Linked DNA regions of Homo sapiens: all the other regions are linked to region 6. The links come from fine-mapping of genetic effects on gene expression. A gene starts in region 6. Each other region holds a variant in brackets. All regions are shown on one strand. Distances are between the middles of the regions. Region 1 overlaps ESYT2 (extended synaptotagmin 2). Region 2 overlaps NCAPG2 (non-SMC condensin II complex subunit G2). Region 3 overlaps ESYT2 (extended synaptotagmin 2). Region 4 overlaps NCAPG2 (non-SMC condensin II complex subunit G2). Region 5 overlaps DYNC2I1 (dynein 2 intermediate chain 1). Region 6 holds the start of NCAPG2 (non-SMC condensin II complex subunit G2). Region 7 has its middle 2.7 kb from the start of MIR5707.

Region 1 (4,385 bases), 27 kb before region 6:
TTTTAAAGGTTGTGAGGTAGATTGGAGTGAGTAGACAGGATATTGCATTAAAAATTGAAAGCTCGATCTCATTATTGTCAGGAACCCCCAGTGTGACCTCACACATAGGATGTGGGACCTTTGAGCCGATGTGCACTGGCCACCACCAGGGTTGGGGGCGCCACAGCTGCGAGCCCGGCCCCTGCTGTTCTCAGCAGCCACTTCCCAGGCTGCCTCACTTTATGCCATGACTGACCTTAATATTGGGATATTGTTATGCAATTTTTATCCTGTTTAGACTGTTAAAAGCAGGTTTCTGTACTTAAGAGTCCCCCAGACCTCCTGTGAGGTGAGGCTCTGTTGCAGTGTCGTAGGCTGTGTGTGTCTGTAAAGAAAGAATGCACATATGTAGACGATTAAGTGTATATTATAAGCTATATGCTGAAAATGGCTTCCATAGCCATGAGAACATCTTAAAACTATGTGTAAATATATTAAGGAAAGTATAGCTTTGTAATTTAAATTGGAGCTTTTAGCTTGTTTCATGGAACTATACAACTTGTGGGTAACTCACATGACCAAACAAACCAAAGTGCCTGTGACGGGGCGGGTGGCGTCTACCCACCCTCCCTTCTAGCAGATTCTTATTTTGTTTGAATTTATAAACAAGGCTGGTGGCTGTCTACCCACCCTCCCTTCTAGCAGATTTTGATTTTGTTTCAATTTATAACTTACACTTTGAACCATGGGTTTACTTATAATGGAGTCTGTAGCTTCACAGCATATTTCATGTAATCATAAAGACCAGTATATTCCCTCCTGCTGAATGACATGCGACTGTAAAGCCTCTTTATAAACCATTTCCAATGTTAGTATATAGGATTATTTGGGAAGCGTATCAATACCTTTATAGACAAATACGAACATGTATGCACACAAAACATTTAACTATGGTATTTATGGAAGACAGGTAACAACATTAAATCTAGTTGCTTTCCCTTAGTATTAGATTTGTTGAGGGTTTTTTAAAAATCAGGTCTGTTGAAAGTCTTCTGTCATAATCTATAAAGCAGCAGCACTCATGGAAATTGTAGCATGCCAGTAATTTTTACCAACATCCCATACATCTGAGTTCTGCAGTCCAGTGTGTAATCCGCTCCATGTGTATTTTGCTTAATGGAATGCTTTATTTAAGCACTTAGGCAGAGTAGACACAATTAAAGGTACAAAGCCCAGAGGAAGTGGTAGAGCAGCACCGTGCCTGCCCTGAGGCAGTGGAGTCAGTAGCGCTGTCCCCAGGGCCTTGAGTGCCTGGAGGTGCTTGGCCTCCAGTAGCTGCCTCCATTCTCTTTTAAAAAAAGGGGGTGATTCTGAGGCACTGAAGTGCCTCCCAGATGTGGAGGAGTGAAGCCACCATCGAGGCCACACTCAGCACTCCAGGATCCCAGCGATGTCAGACACTCTTGAGTTGTCAAAACGTTAATTTTCAGTTTTAAATAATCAGTTTATCTAAGAAAAGGGAATTTTAACTTTTCTACCTTGAGCCAAGCCAATGAAGGGAAAATTAATTAACTTAGTAAATTTGAAGTGCAGCTCTGTTAGCTCGTACATGTGGGTTCTTATCCTGATCCTGTGCCTTAAAGTAGGAAGGTGTTTCCAAGTTCAGATTAAAATAGAAGCAGCTGGCCGGGTGCGGTGGCTCACGCCTGTAATCCCAGCACTTTGGGAGGCCGAGGCGGGCGGATGACCTGAGGTCAGGAGTTCAAGACCAGCCTGGCCAACATGGAGAAACCCCATCTTTACTAAAAATACAAAAATTAGCCGGGCGTGGTGGTGGAGCGCACGCCTGTAGTCCCAGCTACTCGGGAGGCTGAGGCAGGAGAATTGCTTGAACCCAGGAGGCGGAGGTTGCAGTGAGCCAAGATCGCACCACTGCACTCCAGCCTGGGCAACAGAGTGAGACTCCGTCTCAAAAAATAAATAAAATAGAAGCAGCCTTGTAACTGTATTTACCATGATAATATATTCTGCACGGTAAGAATTCCTTTTACAGACATTCTTTATCAAGAGGTCGGCCCTTCTTTTTCAGGCACATAAGCCAAATGCAGGCCTGTGTGTAGCTGTGTGTTTTTTCTGTGGTTGCCGCATTTATTCCACCTCCAGCTGGACCCCCCACTGCAAATAGAGAACAGCGGTGGGGGATGGGGGTTAAAAAGTAGAGAACCTCCTTTCTGTTCAACTAATTTCACGTGACAGTGCATGTATTTATTCAATAAAACCTTTATGTTAGCTCAGTCGTGATTTGTTTTTCTCTGTCTTTTGAAGGGAGGTGTTCAGTGTGCAGTCAGATAATTTGAAAGGAGACGTCGTGCACTGTTTCATTTGCTGTCTGCACTCGCGTTTTCCCAGCAGCTACGTCAGAGCAGCTGAC[A/G]TCCTTCCTGTTGTTCCCAGCTCAGTTTGACTCTCCTCTGCCCAGCACATTACACTCCACATGTCAAAAACAGCTCTTCTAAAGGATAATCATACGTAGAAAAAATAAACTTTAAATGTGTTTTTAACTAGGGCTCTGAGAAGTGCAGCGGGGACTGCCGAGACACCTGAACATTGGAACACTGAGGGTGATACTGGAGTATCCCTTCCTGTTGCGTTCATTACTGGTGGTCTGGATCGACTTGAGTGGAGCCCTTGCGCTTTTCCTCGTAGCCGCTCGGCATTTCACACCAGGCACTTCCTTTCTCCTTGACTGTGGGCCTTTGACACCGGGCACTTCCTTTCTCCTTGACTGTGGGCCATCCTTCTTGGCCTCTGTAGCGCCTTCCTCTGTATTTTCCTTGCACATTTTTGGCCATTTTCCAACACTGTCTTCACCTTCAACCAGACTCAATAATTGGCATAATGTGGGTTTTGGTTCTGATCACTTTTTATTTTTATGTGGTGTTCTTAATACCATCAATACCCTGGTTTCCAGATGTATGTCACTGATACAGATGTTGTCTGAGCTCAGGACCAGTTCATCCCACTGCATCCCCGTCCTCTGTGTCACATGGACACCTCAAGGCACACCCTTTGTCCATCTGTCTGTCCATCATCCGTCTTGGTGCTGGAGCTGAGACCTGGACAGCACCAGCCACCTCCCACTGCCTCAGCCCATGTGCAGACACCAAGTCCTTGAGCTCTAACTGGAGAATGTAGCCACCTCAACTCTGTCCCCTCAGTCCAAGCCACCGTCCCTCTCCATTTCTCAATCTTTCTCCCCTGCCTGCTCCATTTTCCATACAACAGGAGAATCTTTCAGACACAGATCACTCCCACTCAGCTGTGTTCCACTGTTCAAGAGCAAGAGCATTTCCTGACTTCTGCAGCTGAGTGTTTCTTCTTCCTCTGGGACCCTCACCCACTGTACCTCAATCAATGCCTCTCAGTTCCACAGACGGCCCCTACACATTCCCACTCAACACCCCCAGGCATGCTCCTCCCCGCAAGCACCTCCACACCTGCTCGGAACTCCCCAACATCTCCACACTGCTCCCCCGAGCACCTCCACACTTGCTCCTCCCCCCCAGCACCTCCACACTTGCTCCTCCCCCCCCAGCACCTCCACACTTGCTCCTCCCCCCCAGCACCTCCACACTTGCCCCTCTCCCCAGCACCTCCATACCTGCTCCAACGCCCCCACCTCCACACTTGCTCCTCCCCGCCAGCACATCCTCACTTGCCCCTCTTCCACAGCACCTCCACACCTGCTCCAACCCTCCCGCCTCCACGCTTGCTCCTCCCCCACTATCTCCACACCTGCTCCTCCCCCCAGCACCTCCACGCTTGCTCCTCCCCCACTATCTCCACACCTGCTCCTCCCCCCAGCACCTCCACATTTGCTCCAGTCCCAACCTCCACCTTGCTCCTCCCCCCAGCACCTCCACGCTTGCGCCAAGCCCCCCACCTCCACGCTTGCACATCCACACTTGCTTCTCCCAACACCTCCACGCTTGCTCTTCCCCCACTATCTCCACACCTGCTCCTCCCCCCAGCACCTCCACATTTGCTCCTCCCCCCCCACCTCCACGCTTGCTCTTCCCCCGCAGCACATCCACATTTGCTCCAATCCCCCCACCTCCACACTTGCTCCAACCTCCCCACCTCCATGCTTGCTCCTCCCCCCAGCACCTCCACGTCTGCCCCTCCCCTCCAGCACATCCACACCTGCTCCTGCCCCACCCACCTCCACACTTGCTCCTCTCCTCTCCTCTCCCCAGCACCTCCACGCGGGCTCTTACCATGACTGGCCCAGCTCACATCCACTCCCCGTAACTTCTCAGTTGAAAGCTGATCTCGGTGTCCTGTGAGTTTTCTTAGCATCATGTGTGTGTATGTGTTTTTTTTTTTTTTTTTTTTTGAGACAGGTTCTT
Region 2 (4,385 bases), 26 kb after region 6:
CCAAGGCCATTAATCTTTTTATTTCAGCCGTAGATTCTTTCTTGTGATTGACTGCATTTACTACTGTCCTATATCCATTGAAGTTACTCCTGCTGAAGAATTGTCATGACATGTGGATGCCAGCCAGAGCCTACTTGTGGTGGAGAGAACAATTCTCCCTGTTGCTCTTTCCAAATGCCATTTTATTTTATTTATTTATTTTTTTGTTAATGCCTTCCTTTTCCTTTTTTTGGTCCTTAGGTTCTGAGTTACTTTCACCATCAAAAGAAAGTTCGGCAGGGAGTGGAAGAGATGCTTTATAGATTATATAAGCCCATCCTTTGGAGAGGATTAAAGGTATACATTTCAAATAGTTTATCCGTGTTTGGAATGTACTACTTGTGCTTTTGAATTTAGCAAACTCTAAGTCCAAATTACAATAAAATAGTAAAGATAAGGCTGAAGACTGAATGCTTTCTGAAATTTTTGAACAAATGTTTTTTTCTTTTATTAAAAGCATTTCTTGGTTTCATTTAACTGGAAATCTGGATTGGTTTAGTGCTAACTACACAGTTATTTTTAAGTAACCATGTTTAGGGAAGGAGATTAGAGGCATGCCGTAAAGCAAACCAGCTGAGGCTGTGGGTGGTTTGCCGCGCTGGCCTGGGCTGTCCAGGGCTGTCCAGATCCTTGAGATCTAACAAACACACAATAACTTTCAGTGCAGACAACCTGGTATCTTTAGTGAGGATGTGGGGTGACCACTTCTTAGTGACATGAAGTGGGCTTTGAAGTGAGGAAGCTTTATCTTTTCATAGTATCTGTTGACATTGAACTGAGCAATGTTTGGTCAATTTAAACGTTATAATTGTCTGTAATTTGAAAATAAATCTGTATCAAGATAATTAAAGTGTTACTTTGGGAACACTGTACTTAAGCCTTCGTATGTTAACTCTTTGGGATTCTGAGATACTCTTCTTTTATTATTATAGGCCAGAAACTCTGAAGTTCGATCAAATGCTGCATTGTTGTTTGTTGAAGCATTTCCTATTAGGGATCCAAACCTTCATGCTATTGAAATGGATAGTGAAATCCAGAAACAGTTTGAAGAGCTCTATGTACGTACTTCAGGTGGTCAAGCTTCTTACAGATATCAGCTTTGTCCAGGCTGTGGCATGTACTGCTTGTGTGTGTCCCCACCTCCCCTGTAACCGCCAGAGCTCTGCTCCCACATGGCATGGTTTCTAAACCTGGACTGTTCTTCAGAGAGATGCCACTTCTCCCTGGGGCCTTCTATAACAGCGTGGACCTGTGGTGTCTTTTTCTACTTTTGGGACATTTAATTATTTATTACTATGTGTGGTTTTAAACATTTTATGCATATGCCTGTTGTTTCCCCAATGGAGAGGTGGTGTCATATGGTGGGTAAAGCACATGCTCTGGTGTCAGCCCCCTGCTCTCTGGGGTCAGAGTCCACCACTCTCACTTAATAGGTATGTGGCTTTGGGCAAGTCACTTAACTTCTCTGTGTCTTTCTCTGTAAGTGTGATTGCGATATTGCCTATCCTAAAGGTGTTGGGTAGCATAATGAGCAAACACTGGTTATATTTCAGGGCAAGCCTACAAATAATGCCTGTGGCAGGTGATTTTTCAGATGAGGTGCTAGGATGTTAAGATGCGGCATTTATTTCCAAGGAGTATTGTGGATTCTTTTCATCTACTTAGTCTGTATTTCCTAACACAGCTTACTTAAGCAGTGCATACTATCTACTGTCCTAAGTAGTAAAGTTTTAGGAAACAATGACAACAAAGTGCTGTTGTAATGCTGTTGCCTGTGGTGCTTCTGAAGTGCTCCCTTTTTTCTTTTTCTTTTCTAACTTATGGAAAACCTGACATGCAGAAAGTTAAAGTAATAGT[A/G]TAATAGGCCTGCACAGTGGCTTACGCCTGTAATCCCAGCGCTGTGGGAGGGCAAGGTAGGAGGACTATTTGAGGCCAGGAATTTGAGACCAGTCTGGGCAACATAGTGAGACCTCGTCTCTACAAAAAGTTAAAAACAACAACAACAACAAACAAAAAAACAGCCCGGTGTGGTGGCACACGCCTGTGGTCCCAGCTACTTGGGAGGCTTCAGCCCAGGAGGTCAAGTCTACAGTGAGCCATGATCACACAACTGCACCCCAGCCTGGGTGACAGAGTGAGACCCTGTCTCAAAAAATAAAAAGAAAAAAAAGTGTAATAAATATCTGTATACTTCTTCAAGCACACACACACATCCCTAAATGAAGTCATTAGTATTTTGCTGTGTACATTATGTATATTTATCTACAATTCCTTTTTTTTTTTTTAAAGATTCCTTATTTTTAAATTTTATTTTATTTTATTTTATTTTAGAGACAGAGTCGTGCTCTGTCTCCCAGCCTGGAGTCCAGTGGCGTGATCATCACTCACTGCAGCCTCAAATGGGAGGATCGCTTGAACCCAGGAGGTCAAGGCTACAGTGAACCATGATTATACTACTGCACTCCAGCCTGGGCGATAGAGCGAGACCCTGACTCTTATTTTAAAAAAAGAAAAAAATTTTGTGGACAACAAAATTTTAATCTCATGTAATTTTCACATGCCATAAAATGTTAATTTGTTCATTTTTTCCAACCATTAAGAAATATGAACCATTCTTAGCACTGTGGGCTGTGTAGGAGCAGGTACCAGCTGGGTCTGGCCTGCGGCATTGTTCACCAAAGCTGGCTGAGAGCTCCTGTCCCTGGTGCTGCACCTCTTGAGGCTTTAACTCAACCTTTAGATGGAAATTAGGCTCTATCATGAGGAGACAAAGGAGGTGATCTGATAAATAAGTAAGAGCAGTGGTTATTTCCTGTATCCTCTGTGTACCTTAACTGTTCTCTCATGCTTTTTGCTTTATTGGTATTTCTTAAACCTGAGTAATATGGAGAACCTTTTTTTTTTTTTTAAAATAAAAAAGGGTCTAGGTGCAGTGGTTCACGCCTGTAATCCCAACACTTTGAGAGGCCGAGGAAGAAGGATTGCTTGAGCAATCCTGGGCAACATGGCGAAACCCCATCTATACCAATTAAAAAAAAAATCAGCTGGGCACTGTGGTGCATGCCTATAGTCTCAGCTACTAGGGAGGCTGAGGTGGGAGGATCACTTGAGGCTGGAAGGTCAAGGCTGCAGTGAGCTGACATTGTGCCACTATACTCCAGCCTGGGTGACAGAGCAAGACCCTGTTTCAAAAAAGAAAAGGATTCTTTGAATGTTTTTAAATGAAGGGATGCGACAGAAACAGCATTGCAAGTCATGTGCTGTCATTTTGAGTGCTTCTCTGGTGATGGTGTAATTGCAAACAGGTCTGGACACTGAATCCAGAGAGGATGTGGTTGTAAGGTGATTGTCTGGAATATATTTTTATTATTTTTAAAGATTATTATTGAAAGTAATTAATAGAAAACAAAATGTATAAAAACTTCTGAATCCCAAGGACAGGCCTTCAGATTCCTAAAGTTCTTTTCTGTTTTTTTTTTTTTTTTTTTTTTTGCTTTATTTTTATCATCTTTTTTTCTTCCTATTTGCTTTTTCTTAAATGACTGGTCATCTTTTCCATTCTTATGTTTGGATAAAGGATTGGGTTGGTAAGGTAGTTAGCAGGTGTTCTTCTCTAGTTGTGTAGAGTCATGTCTCAGGTTTGCCTAAATGGGCAGAGTGCAACAGCAGGAGGACTTCCCTTAGTTTCTGTGGAGGAAGAGCAGGCAGGCAGGTGACCCCTCGGTACCCAAGTACAAAGGGCCCTTTCCTTCTGGGTGGCATTGCTCTTCCTTCTTTTGCTTTTCTGGAGGCTTAGAGTTATTGCTGGCTCTTTTTTTGTTCTTCTTTGTCTGTTGCCCAGTATCTCTTCCTGGCAGATGACACACGTGGTTTAGAAACCATTTGTAAGACTTTATCCTGGGGAGCACATCCTTGCCCCTGAACTCCTGCTGGCCTGTATGCCTCATCAGGGGTTGTTTGCAGCCCTTGCCACAAACTCTTCTCTGTAACCTGGGCTCTGGGTTCGGGGCTGATGTGAGCTCTCTGAGGTCACAGCCTCCTGTCTTTAGAGCACCCTTACCTAGGAATGTCTAGGTTACAACCTTTTATGCTCTTTTCTCCATGAATCTATTCCTTATTCCCTCTCTTACAGAAATTTCTCAGTCTTTTTGTTTCTATTATTGCTAATAGAAATTGATCATTTTGGTCAAATTTTGGGGAAGAGATGGGGTAAATGCTTAATTTTAACTTGAAATCTTTTTTTCTAATTAAAGTAGTAAGAATTCTGTTGTGTTTTTCAACGTTTCTAATAGAAAATGTCATGCATAATAAAAAAGAGACTGGAGTAATAACCCCTGTGTGCCCAC
Region 3 (4,385 bases), 67 kb before region 6:
AAAGAGGCAGGTCTCCACGTACCACCAAAGAAAAATGTCCTTGGTATATTACGAAGGATGAAGGGTGTGGGTCTGTGTTGTGTACTAACCCATTTTGTCTACAAAGAAACAAGCCTGTGTGCACCTGATTCAATAATTGGAAATTGTTTGGAACTTAATATTTTGCCCTTGTTTTAAAACAGCTTTTAGAAATTAACTGGACAGGACTGACGAATCTTCTGGATGTCCCTGGATTGAAGTAAGTCTCGTGTCTGGTCCCGGAGGCTTAGCGTTCGAGGGCGTGTTGTGCATTTTGGATGTCTTGACAATAGTGTGAGAATGGTTAAGACCTGCGTCTGCCAGGTGAATGGGTGCCTTCTCCACAGGCTGTCGTGAGAAACAAGCAGAGGGTACAGGGGCTTTGTTCTGCCTGCCGGGAGCTGCTGGGAGGCGATGGGCCAGGGCGGGAGGGCTCTGGAGTGCCAGCTGAGGACGCAGTCTTCATTTGCGTTTGTTCACCACAAGGTGTCTTCCTGGCCTTGGCATGTTCGAAAAGTAGAGGTCTTTTAATATTTTGTAAAAACAGTTTGCAAATTTTTTTTTTTAATCTTCTCAGAAACAATAAAGGAAACTTTAAAAGGAAATGCTTTCCAGGGTCTCTCCAGCCTATGGCTACCCCACCCTTTCTGCCTTTTTTTTTTTTTTAACTTTTATTCCATTCCTTTTTGAAATGGGTTGGGGACAGTGTGGACTTCTGGACTTCGCCAGAACTCTTGAGTGTGAGAGGTGAGGAACTTGAAGTTCCGTATCATTTCACTGGGAGTCCCTTCATTATTCCGTAGTGATCTAGTGTCTAAAACAGGAGAAAAATGTTCCATAACAAGCATCTGAGGCCCTGGAGGGTGCATCCCTGCTTAGAGACAAGGAGTCATTCTAGTTGCCGTGGTGCCATTACCTGAAACAGTGCGTGGGGCTGTGGGTGGCAGACCTGTTGGTCACCTCCAAATAGGAAGTTTTGAAATTACAGCCTCTAAATGCTTTTGCTGGCTTTACCGTTTTATTTGAAAGTTAAAACATATCACCTGTGGGTTAAAGTTATATGTTTCTAGTGGATATTTTCTAGTGTGATTTGTTTTCCCTAAAATAGTTTAGAAAATTATGAAACTTGGTTTCAGACTATTTTTTTATTCTCATATATTTGTTTATGCCTCTGAAATGGCCTTTCTAAAGAGTTTTGTTTCATTATTAGGGAAAAATTAGGACTTTAATTATCTGAAGCACAGTCATCATGAAAGTCCTTTTTAGGTGCTGTGGTTTACTGGATGCAGAAAAATGCTGTGATCTTTAAAAGATCTGCGGAAAGAAAGCACAACTTTAAAAGATTGGTTAAAGAGTTCATTAAGATTCTGGTTGCAAGCAACAAACCTGACTTAAGTGGTCTTAAGTAGGTAAATAAGTAAGTTTCTTTTTTTTTTTTTGAGATGGAATCTCACTCTGTTGCCCAGGCTGGAGTGCAGTGTTACAGTCTCAGCTCACTGCAAGCACCACCTCCCAGGTTCAAGCAATTCTCCCTGCCTCAGCCTCCCAAGTAGCTGGGATTACAGGTGCGCGCCACCACACCTGGCTAATTTTTGTATTTTTTTAGTAGAGATGGGGTTTCGCCATGTTGGCCAGGCTGGTCTTGAACTCCTGAGCTCAGGTGATCTGCCTGCCTCGGCCTCCCAAAGTGCTGGGATTACAGGCATGAGACACCGCACCCGGCCAGTAAATAATATTTTCAAAAAGCAGTTTATTCACTCTTCCAACAATGGGCGCCCACTGCCTGCTCTGAGCTAGCTGCAGCCGCTCGTGCATGGGACACAGCTGTGCTTGTTTCCTGCTCGGCAGCTGGAAAGCTGGCGTGTC[T/G]TCTGAGGGACTTCAGATGGAGCCGGTGTTGGGCACCATAAGGGCTCTCTCGCCAGCTCCCCACCCATGCAGGGTGGGCGTGTCCCTCGTGGGCTTGTTTTCAGGCAGTCTCTTGCTGTGCCTGCAGCTACAAGCATTTAGTCTGCGGACTTAGTCGCCTTTCCCGCTAGGTCCCCGCCCAACTTGTGTGTGCAAGGGCCACCCTTGGACAGATTCCTGCGACTCCGATGATCAGGTTTCAATCTCACATACACCCCTACAGAAGGCAAAGAAATGGAAATTCCAGTGAATGGGGGCATCCCCCAAAGCAAAAACTTTCTCTAGAAATAGGGGGAGGAGATACTGTTTAGCCAAATGGAACAAACATCCACACACATCAGTGTAGAAAAAAGTATTTGATTTTGCCTCCCTTCAGTATCATAGGAGGACTGAAATAAAACAGCATTATTGAACATCTACTCTGTAAACAACGTTGTATTAATACTGGCAACCTGAAAGGGCAGTCAGAGAATGTGTTCTGCCCCGGCAAGCCTACAGTTTGGGGAAGTTGATCCCCTGATTCATTTTATTTAAAAGTCATTCACACATACACACGTAAATACAGAGATAAATATACATGTATAGCTCCATTCTATTTAATAATTTTTATGTAGGCTCTTTTTATACAGTAGTCATTTCTAGCTATTTTATTTTTATTTTTCATTTTGTTTTCAGAGATAGATCTCACTCTGTTTCTCAGGCTGGTGTCAACCCCCTGGGCTCAAGGGATCTTCCTGCCTCAGCCTCCCAAGTAGCTGAACTATAGACTTGTACCACTGCATCCAGCTTCTCTTGTTTTATATGTAGATTTTATATATGTAATACAAAAATATAATCATAAGGCCAGGGGCGGTGGCTCACGCCTGTAATCCCAGCACTTTGGGAGGCCGAGGCAGGTGGATCATGAGGTCAGGAGATCGAGACCATCCTGGCTAACACAGTGAAACCCTGTCTCTACTGAAAATACAAAAAAATTAGCCGGGCATGGTGGCAGGCGCCTGTAGTCCCAGCTACTCGGGAGGCTGAGGCAGGAGAATGGCGTGAACCCAGGAGGCGGAGCTTGCACTGAGCAAAGATCGCGCCACTGCACTCCAGCCTGGGCGACAGAGTGAGACTCCGTCTCAGGAAAAAAAATATATATATATATAATCGTATATGTATAATTATGTCATTAAAAATATATACTTACCTAACAGATAAATACACAAACACCATTCAAAAAACAGGCTGTTGTATAAAAGGGAAATGTAAAAATATCTTTTCTAAGTTTATATATATAGGTATATATAATTTATGCACAATTATGTAGATTTTATATAATAAATTATGTTTACATAAATGTTATGTACTAAAATTTAATAGATATGTACGTAAAATTGGGGCTACTAGTTGTCAGTCTTTCTATCAGATAAATTACAGCTATGGCAACCCTTAGGTTATAAAAGTGAATATTAAATAACTATGAGGCTGAACGCGGTGGCTCATACCTGTAATCCCAGCACTTTGGGAGGCTGAGGCGGGTGGATCGCCTGAGGTCGGGAGTTTGAGACCAACCTAGCCAACATAGTGAAATCCCATCTCTACTAAAAATACAAAAATTAGTTGGGCGTGGGCACACACCTGTAATCCCAGCTACTCGGGAGGTGGAGGTTGCAGTGAGCCAGGATCATGCCATAGCACTCCAGCCTGGGCAACAGAATGAGACTCTGTCTCAAAAAAAATAAATTAATTAAAAAAATAAATAAATAAATAACCATGAACTTAACATAATGAAATCTTGTCCCAAGCTTTATAAAATGAGCATCCACATGTTATATTAATTGATTACAAAAAGAAACCCCAGACATTATAGAGTAAGAATAATGCCTGAATTCCTTCACTACACCATAACTTTGGGCTATCCCTATTAAATATCCATTGTGTTTTAATAAGCGGCTCTAAGCTGAGTGTTGAAGTCGTAAGAAGGGTGAAAATTATGATTAAATATCCGTTATGTTTTGATAAGCGTCTCTAAGCTGAGTGTTGAAGGTTTAAGAAGGGTGAAGATTATGGTGGAAACAAAATACGGGTGATGAGTAGTCGTGGTTCCGAAGGACACACAGGGAAATAGTGACTCCCAAGAAAGTAACCACTTCAATAGACGCTTCTGTGGAGACCTAGGGGAGCAGCATCCACATCCACAGTTCGGGGACATGCAGGGTGTAGTGGGGTGAGGAGGCGCAGTGAGGGGAGCCCCGCCAGGGAGCTCCGTCAGAGCTGCTGTGGCCTCCGAGGCCAGGAGTCTGTGTGTGAGAAAGGTGGGTGGGTCCTGCCTCTGCGTGGTGAACACACAGCCAGTGTCTGCTGGCTGAAGCCCTCCGAATCTCTGTGGAAGTATTAACTGTCTGAATAACTGACCTGTTCATAAGTAGAGTAGTGTTACATATGGTTTTTCTTTTGGGGATTTAAAAAATTTTTTCCCA
Region 4 (4,385 bases), 36 kb after region 6:
AGCTTTTTGCCAAGAATATTGCTTATAATGTTCTTGACTTCATTATTATTTGGTACCATTGTGAACTTTCTCCACACAGTAGCTTCTCAGAAATTTACTTTGAGTGCTGTTCTGCTATGGCACAGGATCCAGAAACAGACTGATAACGCCAGAGTGTAGGGTCAGCCAGACAGATTTGTGTATTCATAAGAGAAGTGGTGCCGTGTGGCCATGAAAAGAACAAGGAGGAACTTTTTGTCGGGCTTCCTTGGAAAGGCCTCTAAGATATGGAAGTATAAAAGCATAGTGTAGATGTGGTCCTGGTGTGCTACCAGCTGAATAAAATGGAGACATATATATAAGTAAATATTGCTCAGATATGGGTAAAATATCCTTTGAAGAGAACGAGAATTTAGTGTCAGTTGCTTAGGGTGATGAGGTGAGGGGGAGACAGGGTCCCACTCTGATGCCCAGGCTAGAGTGCTGGGGTGTGATCTTGGTTCACTGCAACCTCAAGCCATCATCCCTCCTGAGCCTCCCAAGTGGCTAGGACCACAGGAGTGTGCCACCATGTCTGGCTGATTTTTGTAGTTTTTGTAGGGATGAGGTTTCCCCATGTTGCCCAGGCTGGTCTCAAACTCCTGGGCTCAAGCGATCTGCCCACCTTGGCCTCCCAAAGTGCTGGGATTACAGGTGTGAGCCACCGTGCCCAGCCAATGATGGGGATCTTGTCACTGAATGTAGTACATATTACGTTGTGTGTTTTGAGTTTTGATCTGTGAATTTTTTTATATTAGAAGAAAACAAAGGATATTTTGAGTGACCAATGTAGTATTAACACCCAATGTCATATGCAATTGAGTTACTTTGATGCTTTTGTTGAAAATCATTGACCATGTGTGTGGTCCTTTTCTGGACTCTGTCCTGTTGTGTTGATCCGTTTATTCTGTGTGGATCTTACAGTAAGTCTTGCAGTGTGCATTCTCCAGCTTTGCTGTTCTTCCAGAATTCTTTGGCTACTTCAGGTCTTTTGCATTTCATATAAACTTTAGAGTAACAGCCGGGTGAGGTGGCTAACACCTGTAATCCCAGCACTTTGGGAAGCTGAGGTGGGAGGATCACTTAAGCTCAGAAGTGTGAGACCAGCCTGGGCAACATAGTGAGACCTTATCTCTTAAAAAAATGTAGAGTAAGCATGTCAATTTTTTTTTTTTTTTTTTTTTTTTTTTTGAGACAGAGTCTCGCTCTGTCACCCAGGCTGGGGTGCAATGGCACAATCTTGCCTTACTGCAACCTCCGCCTCCCAGCTTCAAGTGATTCTCCTGCCTCAGCCTCCTGAGTAGCTGGGACTACAGGCACGTGCCACCATGCCCGGCGAATTTTTTTTTTTTAAATTTTAGTAGAGATGGGGTTTCACCATGTTGGCCAGGCTGGTCTCGAACTCCTGACCTCAGGGGATCCACCTGTTTTGGCCTCCCAAAGTGCTGGGATTATGGGCGTGAGCCACTGCGCCCGGCCAAGCATGTCAATTTCAATAAAAATACTGGCTGCAATTTTGATGGCATTTTTTAAAACAGCCTGTTAAAACTGTAGTTCTGTGCTTTTACACTGTTGGTGGGAGTGTAAATTAGTTCAACCATTGTGGAAGACAGTGTGGCAATTCTTCAGAGACCTAGAGGCAGAAATACCATTTGACCCAGGAATCCCATTACTGGGTATATACCTAAAGGAATATAAATCATTTTATTATAAAGATATATGTTTGCGTATGTTCATTGAAGCACTATTCACAATAGCAAAGACATGGAACCAACCTAAATGCCCTTCGATGATAGACTGGATAAAGAAAATGTGGTACATATATACTATGGAATACTATGCCGCCATAAAAAGGAACGAGATCATGTTCTTTGCAGGGAATGGATGGAGCTGGAAGCTATTATCCTCAGCAAACAAACGCAGGAACAGAAAACAAAATACCGCATGTTCTCACTTATAAATGAGAGCTAAATGATGAGAACACGTGGACACATGGTGGGGAACAACACATACTGGGGCCTGTTGGAGGGTGGAGGGTAGGAGAAGGGAGAGCATCAGGAATAATGGCTAATGGATGCTGGGCTTGATACCTAGGTAATGGGATGATCTGTGCAGCAAACCACCATGGCACATGTCTACCAATTTAACAAACCTGCACATCCTGCATTTGTACCCCTGAACTTAAAAGTTGGACCAAAAAACCCAGAAAACAAAGTAGACTTTAAGGCAATTATTGGAGAAAACTTTTTGTGAATATTTTTACTTTTTTTGTTTTAATTTTTTATTTTGAATTTTCAAACATATATAAAAGCAGAGAGACTAATATAGTGAATTAGATACACCCATCACCCAGCTTCAACAATTATTGCTATGTCCGATCTTGTTTTATCTAAACTGTATCCAGGCCACACTGCCGGACTATTTTGAAATAAATTCCAGACATCA[T/C]ATTGTTTTCTTTGTATTTCAGAATGTATCTCTAAAAGATAAGCACTTAAAACCACTCTACCATTATTTTATAAAAAAAGAATAACTCTTCAGTAAAACAAAACAGAAAACAGTAATAGGTAAGGAGGGCGGAGGGACCCAGTAGTGGGTAAGGAGGGCGGAGGGACCCAGTTGTGGGTAAGGGAGGGCGGAGGGACCCAGTAGTGGGTAAGGGAGGGCCTAGGGACACAAGGTAGGTAAGGAGGGCAGAGGGACCCAGTAGTGGGTAAGGAGGGCAGAGGGACCCAGTAGTGGGTAAGGGGGGGCGGAGGGACCCAGGGTCGGTAAGGAAGGCGGAGGGACCCAGTAGTGGGTAAGAGGGTGGAGGGCCAGAGGGTAGGTAAGGAGGGCGGAGGGACCCAGTAGTGGGTAAGGAGGGCGGAGGGACCCAGTAGTGGGTAAGGAGGGCGGAGGGACCCAGTAGTGGGTAAGGGAGGGCGGAGGGACCCAGTAGTGGGTAAGGAGGGCGGAGGGACCCAGTAGTGGGTAAGGAAGGCGGAGGGACCCAGTAGTGGGTAAGAGGGTGGAGGGCCAGAGGGTAGGTAAGGAGGGCGGAGGGACCCAGTAGTGGGTAAGGAGGGCGGAGGGACCCAGTAGTGGGTAAGGAGGGCGGAGGGACCCAGTAGTGGGTAAGGGAGGGCGGAGGGACCCAGTAGTGGGTAAGGAGGGCGGAGGGACCCAGTAGTGGGTAAGGGAGGGCGGAGGGACCCAGTAGTGGGTAAGGGAGGGCGGAGGGCCACAGGGTAGGTAAGGAGGGCGGAGGGACCCAGTAGTGGGTAAGGCGGGCGGAGGGACCCAGTAGTGGGTAAGGAAGGCGGAGGGACCCAGTAGTGGGTAAGAGGGTGGAGGGCCACAGGGTAGGTAAGGAGGGCGGAGGGACCCAGTAGTGGGTAAGGGAGGGCGGAGGGACCCAGTAGTGGGTAAGCGGGTGGAGGGCCACAGGGTAGGTAAGGAGGGCGGAGGGACCCAGTAGTGGGTAAGGCGGGCGGAGGGACCCAGTAGTGGGTAAGGCGGGCGGAGGGACCCAGTAGTGGGTAAGGAGGGCGGAGGGACCCAGTAGTGGGTAAGGAGGGCGGAGGGACCCAGTAGTGGGTAAGGGGGGGCGGAGGGATCCGGTAGTGGCTAAGGAGCGGAGGGACACAGTAGCGGAGGGACACAGTAGCGGCTAAGGGTGGAGGAGGGACACAGGGTCTCTGAGGGAGGCGGAGGGACACAGGGTCTCTGGCCCACCAGGAAGTTTGGGCGCCAGAGCAGAGGAAGAAGGCAGAACGTTTGCGTTTCAGTCCTTATCTTTGCAAGTGCAAGGCAGACAGCCATTTGGTTGTGAGGTGTCTGGAAAGGTTTGTGACGAGCATGCAAGCTAATTTCCCTTGAAAGTTAAGGTTACAGAATGACATGAGTATAAGAGGCAGTCTGGCTGGCCAGAGGACAGCTGTTGGAGCTGACGGGAGGGCATTGTCTATGGGCAGGAACAACCTGGCACATGAAGCCAGGCTGCCGGGCCTGGCGTGCACACCTCAGTAATGGGTGTGCTGGCCCAGTGGAGGGTCTTGTACATGCAGCTCTAGAAGGATTGAGAGTTATACTTTCTCTTTGTTTCCTTTGTCAGCTGTGGTAGGCCTGGGCTGCTGGGCTGAGCCCAGTGGGCCAGGAGATGTCAACCCTCTCCCTTCAATGCATTGTCTTCTTTTTATTTTATTTATTTATTTTTTTTTGAGACAGGGTTTCCCTGTGTTGCCCAGGGTGGCGTCAAAATCCTGGCCTCAAGCGATCCTCCTGCCTTGGTCTCCTGAGTTGCTGGGACTACAGGCGGGAGCCACTGTGCCCAGCCAATAAGTCTACTTCTATTTCTTCAGCAGTGTGTGGCCCGTGCAGCTCTGATC
Region 5 (4,000 bases), 220 kb before region 6:
TCGTGAAACAGGAGGATAGGAAGTCCATGACTGGCGAGAACTTCAGTCAAAGAACTGGACCGCACCGCTGGCAGGCGCCAAGTCAATGTGGAAAGCAGCACCCGGCCAACCCCAGCCACACACACACCACAAACACCTATCAGCCCCTCAGTTCACATCCTGCTACCCACACCATCCATGCTTGGGTCACAACGTCCCCTCCAATTCCAGGGAACCCTCCTTCCACCTCGTCACAATCGCTCATAGCTGCAGCCTTCTGGGGCCACTTCCACCAGCAAGCGTCAGGTCTTCTTCCAGCTGCCGTATTTAATAGTTGTTTTTAGTGGGATGAGGTTCTCGAGTGCTGTGACCTGACCCCGTTTTCTCCTAAGCCCTGTGGTTTTTATTGGCAGTCTTCCACGGTGTAGCGATTTTTAGGAACGTGTACCTCCTGTTACAGCGGAACTATGATATGGCAACCAACGCCTGACCCATCGCTGCCCCGACCTCACCTCCCACTGTCCACCGTGGTCTCCTCGCTTCTACCCAAGACACAGGTGTGCCCACCGCTCAGACCTGTGTGCGTGCAGCGCCTCCTCCAGAAGCTCCCATCTCCCTGTGGCCCGTCTCTCATCTCCGTCCGGTTTTCACTCACAGTGAGGCCTCCTCTATCAGAACTGTCTTTATTTTTCTCCTTAGAACTTACCCCTCTCTGATAGACTGTGTGTTGACCTGTTTAGCCAGTGCAGAGCCTACTTGACCCAGCGAAACACAAGTTCAGGAGGGCAGAGTTGCTGTCGTCCTACTCACTGCTGAACTGCAGCTCCCCGACAGTGCCCAGGGCATAGCACCCGCTACAGAACATTTGTCAAGATGAACGACCTGCTGGCTGCGTCATTCTGCCGCGTGTTTTAATAGAGATGAGGACGACCCGCTGGCTGTGTCATTCTGCCGCGTGTTTTAATAGTGATGAGGGTACTGGGTGGACCCTAGGAAGGCTGAAGTATCTCTACATCTGATCACAGATCAGAATCTAATGTGAGTCAAATTCTGGATTCGCAGGGTGAGACAACCCACACACTCCGTCTCATGCCTCTCTTGCAGTCTCATATTCCTTCTGCTATCTCAATATTCATTTTACCAGAACACAAAACTAAGCAAACAAGACCCTCCACTCCTTGAACATGTGGGAAGTGCAACACACACACACTTCACGAGTTCCCCAACGGAGGCCACACACTGCAGTACACACATGCACTTCACGTGTTCCCCGACAGAGGCCACGCACTGAAGTACACACATACACTTCACGAGTTCCCCAACAGAGGCCACACACTTCAGTACACACACACACTTCATGTGTTCCCTGATGGAGGCCTGGCGCTGCAGTATGCACACATACTTCACGTGTTCCCAGATGGAGGCCACACACTGTGGTACACACACGCACTTCACGTGTTCCCCGACGGAGGCCACACGCTGTGGTACACACACACACTTCATGTGTTCCCTGATGGAGGCCCGGCGCTGCAGTATGCACACACACTTCACGTGTTCCCCGATGGAGGCCACACGCTGTGGTACACACACACACTTCATGTGTTCCCTGATGGAGGCCCGGCGCTGCAGTATGCGCACACACTTCACGTGTTCCCCGACGGAGGCCACATGCTGTGGTACACACACACACTTCACATGTTCTCTGACGGAGGCCACACGCTGTGGTACACACACACACTTCACGTGTTCCCCGACGGAGGCCCGGCGCTGCCATACACACACACACTTCACGTGTTCCCCGTTGGAGGCCACACGCTGTGGTACACACACACACTTCACGTGTTCTCCGACGGAGGCCACAGCGCTGCAGTACACACACACACTTCACGTGTTCTCCGACGGAGGCCATGGCACCACTGCCGCTCTCATGCATCTGCTGTCACTGCTCAGTGTCGGCTCCCTGGGGGCGGCGCACACTCGGTTCCCTTCTTGGTGTCTGCTGGGTGTGGGAGTGTGGATGCCAATGTGTTGAATGATACAGGTACAGAGATTTATTATTTTTCTAACAGGAAAAGACAAAACCCTCTCAAAGAATGTGAAGACTTGTTAAATTAACAATGCCATTTTTGTTAACGTTAAAAGACAGAGAAATGTAAATAAACTGAAATCTCTAAATAGCAGGCAGGACGGAAGAAATGCCTGGAACAGTGGCACCAACTGCTCTGGTCTCACACGTGCCCCGAAGCACGTTTACCCTGCAGCACACCCGCACCTGCTACCAAGCAGACGGCCACACGGAC[C/G]ACCTCTGCTGGTTCTCCACAAAAACCGGGACCATGGCTGCCCTCCGGTACCCGACAGCCACTTTTTCAGAGACAAAGAGGTTACTAGCTCAAGAAATTTCAGTTTGGTCTTGCAAATGCAGTTTGTCTGAACTGATTAAACAGTTACATGCAACTGTACTTTCTGTTTGAGATCCTGGGCTTTGCTTCCCGTTTTATGTTCCATAACCACGGATTGACCTAAAAATCTAAGTCTATCTACACTAAATGTTAAGCGTCTTGCTTGTAACTATATCTAAACTATTAACACAACTTTGATCTGAACACTCTCTCATGCTCGTCCAACTATTTCTACTACTCTATCTCAAGAAAAGAAACTGAATAACTGGAAGAGAAAAGAAAACAGGATTTCAAACACATAGAAAATCTCAGTTCCCATTCATTCAAACAATCTCACATGTTTAAATTACTGTGGATCCCTCTTCTATTCATCTTACTAAAATCCTTAATCACAAATTTAACATGCACACTTAAGAGGGAAAAACCACTCACTTTTGAATTCTGCAGAAACTCAGTCTTTCTCAGTTTTATGTACATTAAACCCCATCACATTAAAATAAAATATTATACTACAGAGTATTATTTCAACATGAATGTTTAGTCACTGGATTTAAAATCATATTTGAGAACAGCCTCTTACTTTGAAGGAATGGTAGACTGGTGTTCAGCTGAGATGAGCTGTCACTAAAATACAGGGCCCTGTCTTGAGCCCTAAGATTCCAGCTGGGTTCAGCTGCCAAGCGATCCTCTTCCAGCAAAACGGCCATCACCTGTCAGACATAAGTGAGTAGTCTTTAATAAAAACTTCACAATGGATTATCTTTTCCAAAAAAAAATTACCTTTTCATCTTATCCATATCTGCAAATAACTGCTTAGATCCATGACGCTATCATAACTACAAGAAAAACGATACGGTCCTTTCTGCTCAATACTGAAAACTAATACAGTAAGATTAACTAAAACTCCACAGGAGAATCATCATTTGCCCTGAATGTTGTTTTTCACACCACATACACTGCTAAAAATCACAGTGGGAGAAAGGGGGCTGGGTATCCAGCATTCATAAATGAACAAAGCAGTGTAAAGAGCAGTCATGAACCCACCGAGTCTCTCTCACTGGGTTTTGGTAAAAAGCCAGAGTGAGTGGTAAAACACTGTCATTGTTCCAGGAGGGTCATCCTTAGGATTTGACAGGGCAGAAAGAGAAGATTGGGAGACAAAACAGGATTGATGGAAAAAGAACTGGAAATGTTCCTGAGAACTAACACAAGGAAAGTGAGGAAGGCAGAGAGTGTTGAATGAGAAGCAACAGGATTTGTGCGAGGAAGAGGGAGCTGCGTAGTGAGAATGGAGGCCAGGAAGTGTTCATTGGGAACTGACATGACCCGGGAACACTCAGGGTCAGGACGGCCGGGAATACTGAGTGAGAAGTGACAGAATATGGGAGGGCGGGAGGCAGGAAATGTTGAGTGAGAGCTGACTGTGTGAGAGTGAGGAAGGCAGAAACAGACAGTGAAAGCCAACCGTATGGGAGTGAGGAAGGCAGAGAATGTTTCATGTGAACTGACAGAACGGGAGAGTGAGAGACAGGAAATGTTGAGTGAGAATTGATAGGATTCGTGTGAGAAAGGGAATGTGTAGTGAGGACTGACAGGATGGGTGTGAAGAAGGAAGAAAATGT
Region 6 (4,385 bases):
ATACAGACATTTAGGCCTCATAACAACCCCCTAGAGGAGGCTCAGTACTTAAGTAGGTCCCATTTGATAGATGAGGAAACTGAGGCTCAGTCGTCCATGGCTTGTCAAAGGTCACCAGCTAGTGAGCACAGAACCAGGTTAGCCCAGGTGGTACAGCTTCAGAGCTCACATGCGTAACTTGTTACATTATTCCTACTCAGGAAGTGGAAACCCCAGGAACAGATGGCTGATTGGAGGAGGGACCAGCATAAGGAAAGGGGCAGGATTCAGGGGTGGGAGGGGAAGTCGATATCTGTTTTGGATGCATGTCAGCACCAGCGTGGGAGTAGGCAGTGAGCTGTTGAAAATTCTGGAGTTCAGAAATAACCGTGTCTTGCAAATCCAGATGCAGAGGTCACTGCTTGAAGGTGGCAGTTTGCACCTTGGATATGAAGGAAATTGCTAAGAAGAAAGCAGTGAGAAGATGAGGGCACCAAAATTCAAGAAATGGCAGGGAAGGATCTGTGTATGGAGGGAGGAGGAGGTCAGAGGTGGCTGGAGCCCCAGGATGAAATAGGCAATGTTAGATATCGGCCACCTGTTGACAAGGGTCCCAGACTCAGCATCCTCTGAGTGGGTCTTCTCCCTCCCCTCTGCAGCCTGCCTTGCTTCACTGTTGCAAGCTTCCTAGTAAACCAGTCTTCTCCCTGCTATAATTTTATATTGCTTGTTGAAACGATATTCCAACAAGTAACATAAATATTTTTGATATACTAGGCTAAATAAAACATATTTAAAAATTAATGTCACCTATTTATCTTCATTTTTCTAATGTGGTCACTAGAAATTTACAAGTGCACTTGTGGCTCCCATGATGTTCCTATTGGTTGGTGCTGTGCTCCCACAGTGCAACGACTTCAATCTCGCCAAGACCTCTGGCTTGAGTTAAGCCAGGAAAACAGATACCACTCTAGACATCTCAAGCATGAAAGAATATAGCTCCAGGGAAGGCCAAGTCCTCACGAAGGGATGCAGAGCTCGGTGGTAAAGAGCACCGTTTTCTAAGAATTTGCTTTCAACAAAAATTGGGAACGCCCAATCAAGTTATTCGCTGACACAAATTAAAAGAGATTGATACATCAGTATGTGATTTTGGCATTTAAGTCCAAAGAATTGAATGACATTGCTACTCCTCCTTCACACGGGTGCCTCCGAGGGTCCCCGCTAAGGCCTCTCCCTCTCCACCCTATGGGCAGCTGACCTGCCGGGGGCCTCACCTGCTGGAGGAGCAACTGCAGGAGAAGCACCTGTTAGGGGCCGCACCTGGCCGGAGGGGCTCCTGCGGGGGAAGCACCTGCCCAGGGTGCACCTACCGTGTGCAGGCTGCGGACCACCCGGACAGGTGCCCCCTCGGCAGGGAGGGCGGTCACGGGGGCCGGCCAGGTCGGGGTGGGGTCCTCCCGGGGATCCAGACACGGCCCTGTGGCCTCTCCCCGCCCCAAGCCTTTCCTTTCTCTCCCCCTCTCTCTCTTCCTCTCCTTCCTCCTTCCCACAACACCGCCCGCTCGCAGCGCCCCGCCCTCTCCTGGACCGCGCACTCCCTCCGCGGAGGCCCCAGGACGCGCACGAGCGCGCAGTGGACGTCGGCGCGCGGACCGGGCATGGGTTCCCCAGCTGTGGCGCCCCGCGTGCGCGTTCCGTAGTGCCCGGTAGGGCACTGGGCTTAGCTGCTCGAGGCCGCGCCCTAAGAGGCGGGGCATAGACAGGAAGAAGACTGGCGGGCATGTGGGCGGGGCATGATCTGGAGGCGGGGCGGGCCGGGCGTGTGGGCGAGGCCCGAGGCTCGCGGCGCCCCAGCTCTCGCGAGAGCGGCGCCTGATGACGACCGGGAGGGCGGGGCCCGTCTGGGGCGCCGGCGGGTGCGTTTGAATCTGGTCCGAGCGCGGGAAACGGCGGGTCCCCGAGCCCAGGTAAGAGCTGCGGTGCCGAGCCGGGATTGGGTTCAGAGCAGGGGCTGGGAAGTAGCAGGGATCGGGCGGGAAGCCCCTCCTCGGCTGGTCGGGGTCCCAGCCTCCCCTCCCCTAAGGAGGCGGCCGACCTGCGTGCGGGCAGTGCTGCCTCTGACGGAACTGGACGGAACTGGCGACCCCGGGCCATCCCCCCTACCCAGCTCAGCGACGCCCGTCCTTCTTGTCCGTGTCGGAGGAAAATCCCAGCCCCGGGCGCGGGCACTGCCCTCAGAGAGCGACCCCCCAGCCCTGAGCATGGGCACCGTCCTCAGAGAGTGTCCCCTCAGTCCTGGGCATGGGCACTGCCCTCAGAGAGCGACCTCCTCTGTCCTGGGCATGGGAACTGCCCTCAGAGAGTGTCCCCTCAGTCCTGGGCATGGGCACTACCCTCAGAGAGCGACCCCCTCAGTCCTGAGCATGGGCACTGCCCTCAGAGAGCGTCCCCTCAGTCCTGGGCATGGGCACTACCCTCAGAGAGCGACCCCCTCAGTCCTGAGCATGGGCACTGCCCTCAGAGAGCGACCCCCTCAGTCCTGGGCATGGGCACTGCCCTCAGAGAGCGTCCCCTCAGTCCTGGGCATGGGCACTACCCTCAGAGAGCGACCCCCTCAGTCCTGAGCATGGGCACTGCCCTCAGAGAGCGTCCCCTCAGTCCTGGGCATGGGCACTGCCCTCAGAGAGCGACCCCCTCTGTCCTGGGCATGGGAACTGCCCTCAGAGAGAGTCCCCTCAGTCCTGGGTGTCGGTACTGCCCTTAGAGAGAGTCCCCCTGAGCCCTGGGTGTAGGCACTGCCCTCAGAGAGTATCTCCCCAGCTGTGGACGTGGGCATTGTCCTCAGAGACATCAGTCTCCTGAACTCTTGTTGCTGGTTTGGTGCCTCTTGTTGTGTCCATGAGGAAGGAGTTTGGGGACGGAGTGGGAAGTCACAGGTGGTGAGAAGGTAACAGGGATTTCTTCTTTTTAATGCTCATCTTGATTTAGTACCAGACCTCCTGTGCGAAGAGTAACCTGCTCTTCGGACTGATAACTGGATGGTGAGATGACTCCTTACCTTGAAAGTAGCATTCTGGCTGCAGGGCTGAGGTCTTATGCACATATGGTACAAGAAACATGGAATATTGCCACTTTGGGAGATAGATTGAAAAATTAACCATTAAAAAATTACAGTCACTAATATAAGAGGGAAAATGGGAAATATAGGAATAAGTTTGGTAGTCTAGAGGAAGTGTATTACTGTAAGTTGGACTAACATGCCAAAGAGGTACACTTGGAAATAGAGCAAACAAGAAAAGTGACCAGAACTATGAAAAAGTGGAGAGTGTTCACAGACTTGCCGGGCGAAGATGTATGATTCCATGTGTTTGCTGCACCTTATTGGATTATTTTTCTAAAATCATGAATTTGTCCTAGCCACTATTCATTATGCTTGTTACTGGCCACTCTCCCTTCCCTCCCCATTTTCTTTGTCAGTGAAAAATGTGCCAGTCATGCTTGATTTAAAGAGGGAGACACGTTGTCGTTAGGCAATTTCATCATTGCATGAACATCACAGAGTGGACTTGCCTACACCTAGAGGTGTAGCCTACACACATAGGCTGTATGGTGTAGCCTACTGCTCCTAGAATGTTACTGTACTGAATACTGTAGGCAACTGTAATACAATGGCAAGTATTTGCATCGCTAAACATATCTAAGCATAGAAAAAGCACAGTAAAAATATGGCATTATAATCTTATGGGACCACGGTCATACATGTGGTCTGTTGTTGACTGAAATGTTATGTGGTCCATGACCGTAGTTCATAGTTCAGCCATTTGAGTTGAGGAATGAGATGACCAGACTTCACTGTTAACTTATTTCGGGAGTCATTAAACTGAGGTTATTTTTGCTTTGTTCAATTTGGACATTAAAATCTAGTATTATATGTTTAAGATGACTCTCTGTCCCCATAATTATTGGCAATAATTTTCCATATTGCTCTATTTATAATGGTGCAGGTGGTTTTCATTTATTTTTAAAGTGAGGGGGCTCCTACTGCAAATGTGTTCCATCATTTGCTATTACCTCATCTTTAGGTTGATGTTTTTTCAGTAGGGCACCAGTAGCACCAGGTATTGTGAATGCGAAATAGAATTTCCTGGAAAAACACAGGCAGGATGGAGGGTATACAAAGTCCCCTGAGCTCTCATTATCCCGAAGGGGTGGGAGGAGGGTGCTGTGGTTGAGCATGCCTAATGCATAGTCTAACAAGATCCCAGGTGACCCCCGGGGCCACTGTTTTCCATCTCACTTTGAATAACAAGATGACACTAACAGTGGGATTTTTTTGATGGAGGAATGGCCTTTAGAAAGGGAGCATCTTCAGAATCTGCAGCTGGGATCAGATTGTTCTTTTG
Region 7 (4,385 bases), 110 kb after region 6:
CAGATGCCAGACACCTCTGCACCCACACCCTGAATAATAGCCAGTCACCTCCCCGCTGAGTGGGCTGGCTGCCCTCCCAGCTAGGGTTAGGAGGCCTCAGAAGTGCTGGCTTCAGGCTAATAGAATCCACAAATGGAGAATTCGGTGAATTGGGATGGCAAGAATGGGACCTTGAACTCTGGAGTGAGACCGAGTGGATTTGAACCCTGAACCCAGCACTTACTGGCTGTGGGGGTCTTGGGAAGATGATTTAGACCTCAGCCTTGGTCTCCTCATGTGTGGAATGTGAATGAGAATGGCGCCTAACTATTGTCATAATCACTGGCACCTAGTCAGTGCTTTATGGAATTAGATATTTTTCTTATGACCAATGGCTGGACTGTTTATTAATAACAGTAAGACTGAGGCCTGCCGACTTACATAGGTCACCAAGTCTCTCAATGCAGGTGACTGAAAGGGTCTGGCAGCTGGGCCCACAAAAGACTTTATTGGAAGGTAGGGAGCCCCCAGAGTCAGGAAAAGATGCAGATGCAGACCTGAGCATGGGACTCAGGCCTCGGCACTCATTGGCAGTGACGCGGTTTGTATCTGTGTCCCCACTCAAATCTCATGTTGAATTACAATCCCCACTGTTGGAGGTGGGACCTGGTGGGAAGTGACTGGATCGTGCAGGTGGTTTATCATGGTTTAACACCATCCCCCTTGGTGTGGTCTTGGCAGCAGTGAGTTCTTGTGAGATCTGGTTGTTTTAAAGTGTGTGGCACCTCCCCGTCTCTCTTTTCCTCCTGCTCCAGCCACGTAAGACGTGCCTGCTCCCCCTTCATCTCCCACCATGATTATAAGTTTCCCGAGGCCTCCCCAGAAGCACAGGCCACCTTGCTTCCTGTATAGCCTGAGGAACTGCTGGTCAATTAAACCTCTTTTCTTTGTAGATTACCCAGTCTCGGGTATTTCTTTATAGCAGTGTGAGAACGAACTAATACAGGTAGGCCCGGGTGCTGCTGCAGGCCTGAGGCAGCTCTGGTCATCTCCTCCTGTGTCACTCCATGCATGACTCACATCCTAGGGAGAGAGCATTTGCTGGCCTGCATATGCCATGAGCCTTTACCAGGTGGCCTGTCCTGAGGGAAAAGGGTTCAAGGGCAGAAGTCCCACAGATAAAAATGGCAGTGCTGTTTGCCTAAATGGGAAAGGGGATGTGCAGACAGAAGCATCACCACCACTGACACTTCCATCACCACCAGCTCCACCTCTGTTACAACTTCGCCACCATCACCATAACCACCATCACCACCTCTACCACCACCTCCACCACCACCAGCGTCACCACCACTAACACCTCCACCTCCATCATCACCAGCTCCACCTCCACCACCATGACCACCATTATCACCATCTCTACCACCACTAGCTTCATCACCACTAACACCTCCACTTCCACCTCCACCACCACCACTGTATTAGTCCATTCTCGCACTGCCATAAACCCCTGAGACTGAGTAATTTATAAAGAAAAGAGGTTTAATTGGCTGATGGTTCTGTAGGCTGTACAGGAAACATGGCTGGAGAGGCCTCAGGAAATTTACAATTACGGTGGAAGGTGAAGGGGAAGCAGGCACATCTTACATGGCCAGAGCAGGAGGAAGAGAGAGAGAAGCAGGAGGTGCTACACACTTTTAAACAACCAGATCTTGTGAGAACTCTATCATGAGAACAGCACCAAAGGGGGAAATCTGCCCCCATGATTCAATTACCTCCCACCAGGCCCCACTTCCAACACTGGGGATTTCAATTCCACATAAGATTTGGGTGGGGACACAGATCCAAACCATATCAACCACCACGACCACTTCCATCACCACCAGCTCCACCACTACCACCATGACCATCTGTATCACCACCAGCTTCACCACCATTGCCATCACCATCTTTAACATCATCTCTACAACCACCCTCCAGCACCACCACAGTAACCACTACCATCACCGTATCAATCACCACTTTCTTCAACAACACATCCACTGTCAAAATCACCACCACCTTTCCCATCACCATCAGTACCACCATCAGGATTACTGTCAATATCAATACCACCACCACCAACACAATATCAATATCAGTACCACCACCACAACAGTCACCACCTTCATCAACACACCCACCATGGAAATCACCATCATCTCTACCATCATCACCACCAGCAATACTGCCAATGTCAATACCACCACCATCACAATCACCATCACCACTATTACCATCTCTATCACCACCTTCAGCAGCACCATAATAACCACAACTAACACTGCCAATATCAATACCACCACCACGACCTCCAGCATCACTTTTACTACCACCACCAATACC[C/A]TACATAGTCACCATGATTACCACCGTCACCCCAACCACCATTGTTGCCACCCCATCACTGCCACCATGATCACCACCATCCCACCACCAACACTGACACCTTCAACATCAACACCACTGTAACAATCACTCCTACCATCACCTCCACTTCCACCACCACCACTACCGACACCAACACTAACACCACCCAAGATGGACGGTCCAGACTTCCACTCCCCTTTTTGTTGTCTGCTGACTGGCAAAATATTGATAATACAGTAACATGCTAAGGCCAATTCTTCAGACATTTGGGGTCTAGGAGCAATATTTTTAAAACCACCTTTGCAAAGATTATAACTGAGACAATTATTACAGCGAAAGAGATTTGACCTAACTGACTCCATCTTGTTTCTAACCTCCAAGCTGTCCTTGTTCATTCCTGGCCGTAGGCCAGACTAACTCTAGGAGGAACTTAGTTTATGGTTTAGCTTTGAAACAGAGATGATAACAGTCCTTTCCCAAAACAAACCCCCTTCCTGCCTGGGGACTAACAAATTAGCCACAAGATTAGAATTATGATTTAGGAGTCATGCAGCTGGAGGCTGCAAGATTCTAAACCTCCCCACGTTGCTCCTGGGAATAACATCACTGTTGTAAAATCTGGGATCAGTGCTTGAGATATTGCAGACCCTGAATTCTGATGTACCAGCTGACACCTCCCAGACTGGTATTTGTCTCAACCAGTTCTGCGATCCCACCCAGGAACAGAAGACAGCAAGAAAACCCCACTTCAACCCCCTCTGATTCCATCTCCAACCCGACCAATCAACACTCCCCACTTCCCGAGCCTCTACTCACCAAATTATCCTTAAAAACTCTGATCCTCAAGTTTTCAGGGAGACTGATTTGAATAATAAAACTCCAGTCTTCCGCACACAAGCTCTGCGTAAATTACTCTTTCTCTACTGCAATTATGCTGTCTTGGTAATTTGGCAGTGGGCAAGGTGAACCCCTTGGGCTGTTCCATTTGGGGGGGTGCAGCTTCCGATTCCCCACCCTGCAATTGCACCCTGGAGTCAGTGACACTTGGTACTGAACAGAAGTGTCACCCTTTTGAGGCAGGACGTTTCCCGCAGGGAAGAGGTGTCCACAACAGGACAAGACACCAAGGAGTGATGGACCTTCCTGACTCCTCTCCGCTAAGCAGAGGGAAGCTTTGTGGGGCACTCTTCTCTGAAGCGGCAGGGGCAGGAATGACTTGCTCTTGCCCTGTAGATTGGGCTCAGTCAACATCATAAGCAGAAGACTGAGCTACCGTCTCCATGGGCTGACATCCACTTTCCATCACACAGACTGGGATTAGGTGACTCACTGCATTTGCCATTCAACTAGACCTGGGTTGTGTTTAAATGGTGAAAAATGGCCAATTAAAAGTGGCCAATCTGGCAGTTTTGACTGTTCTAATAAGTCATTCAAATTTCATCATGGTTGGCCAGAACCACTATGTCATTTAGCAAGAGCCAAAATGTTTGTCTAGCATGAGTAACTTTGAGTGTATTCATTAGTACATGTTCAGGCACCTTTGTTCTTGAGCATGGAGTGTGTGGAAGTTGCATCTGCACTTGCCCTAAAACCTCACCTGAAGTCCATCCCTCTCATGAAGCCATTCCTGATCAAGCGGAGACTCAGCATCTCCCACAGAGAATGTTAAATGGGAAGATCAGAGCCCCAGCCTTCAACCTGAAGAGGAGAATGCCACGCAGGAGCCGGTCAGTCCTGTCCACGTGATGTGGGCCTTTGGGATTCAAACAAAGCCTGCTGCGCCCCACTGCACCCCAGGGTTCTCATGCCAGCCCTCTCAAGATTGTTTCTTAGAATCAGAGGCCCAGCCACCCCATTTGAAACACTTTCTGGTCCTCGTTAAGGACTGGTCAGCTCTGATGTAACCCAGAGCACTGACTGACACAAAACCATTGGATTGGCCAACAGTTTCACCTTTGTCACCAGTGGGCAACGTTCACGTTCACGATCACGGAGCTGGT

Evidence for each region.
Region 1: its variant is fine-mapped to the expression of NCAPG2 in whole blood (INTERVAL, PIP above 0.99).
Region 2: its variant is fine-mapped to the expression of NCAPG2 in whole blood (TOPMed, PIP above 0.99). The same link has a PIP of 0.9 or more in blood mononuclear cells, hippocampus, lung and nasal epithelium.
Region 3: its variant is fine-mapped to the expression of NCAPG2 in whole blood (TOPMed, PIP above 0.99).
Region 4: its variant is fine-mapped to the expression of NCAPG2 in whole blood (TOPMed, PIP above 0.99). The same link has a PIP of 0.9 or more in blood mononuclear cells.
Region 5: its variant is fine-mapped to the expression of NCAPG2 in whole blood (TOPMed, PIP above 0.99).
Region 7: its variant is fine-mapped to the expression of NCAPG2 in whole blood (TOPMed, PIP above 0.99).

The regions. Positions count from the first base shown.
Region 1 is chr7:158,728,885-158,733,269 of GRCh38, reverse strand. ESYT2 (extended synaptotagmin 2) reads left to right here. Exons shown (of 23, transcript NM_001367773.1): 23 at 1-2,273. Among named protein-coding and RNA genes, the nearest start is that of NCAPG2, 26 kb to the right of the region's middle. The variant A/G (reference allele first, on the strand shown) is at 2,411.
Region 2 is chr7:158,676,672-158,681,056 of GRCh38, reverse strand. NCAPG2 (non-SMC condensin II complex subunit G2) reads left to right here. Exons shown (of 28, transcript NM_017760.7): 10 at 241-336; 11 at 972-1,097. Among named protein-coding and RNA genes, the nearest start is that of NCAPG2, 26 kb to the left of the region's middle. The variant A/G (reference allele first, on the strand shown) is at 1,897.
Region 3 is chr7:158,769,194-158,773,578 of GRCh38, reverse strand. ESYT2 (extended synaptotagmin 2) reads left to right here. Exons shown (of 23, transcript NM_001367773.1): 7 at 183-238. Among named protein-coding and RNA genes, the nearest start is that of ESYT2, 58 kb to the left of the region's middle. The variant T/G (reference allele first, on the strand shown) is at 1,885.
Region 4 is chr7:158,666,593-158,670,977 of GRCh38, reverse strand. The region is part of intron 13 of NCAPG2 (non-SMC condensin II complex subunit G2); the gene reads left to right. Among named protein-coding and RNA genes, the nearest start is that of NCAPG2, 36 kb to the left of the region's middle. The variant T/C (reference allele first, on the strand shown) is at 2,464.
Region 5 is chr7:158,917,828-158,921,827 of GRCh38, reverse strand. DYNC2I1 (dynein 2 intermediate chain 1) reads right to left here. Exons shown (of 25, transcript NM_018051.5): 15 at 2,959-3,088. Among named protein-coding and RNA genes, the nearest start is that of DYNC2I1, 63 kb to the right of the region's middle. The variant C/G (reference allele first, on the strand shown) is at 2,280.
Region 6 is chr7:158,702,288-158,706,672 of GRCh38, reverse strand. NCAPG2 (non-SMC condensin II complex subunit G2) reads left to right here and starts at 1,869. Exons shown (of 28, transcript NM_017760.7): 1 at 1,869-1,949. RefSeq lists silencers at 1,213-1,492, 1,613-1,702, 1,853-1,952 and an enhancer at 2,530-3,108.
Region 7 is chr7:158,592,169-158,596,553 of GRCh38, reverse strand. No RefSeq gene overlaps it. Among named protein-coding and RNA genes, the nearest start is that of MIR5707, 2.7 kb to the right of the region's middle. The variant C/A (reference allele first, on the strand shown) is at 2,365.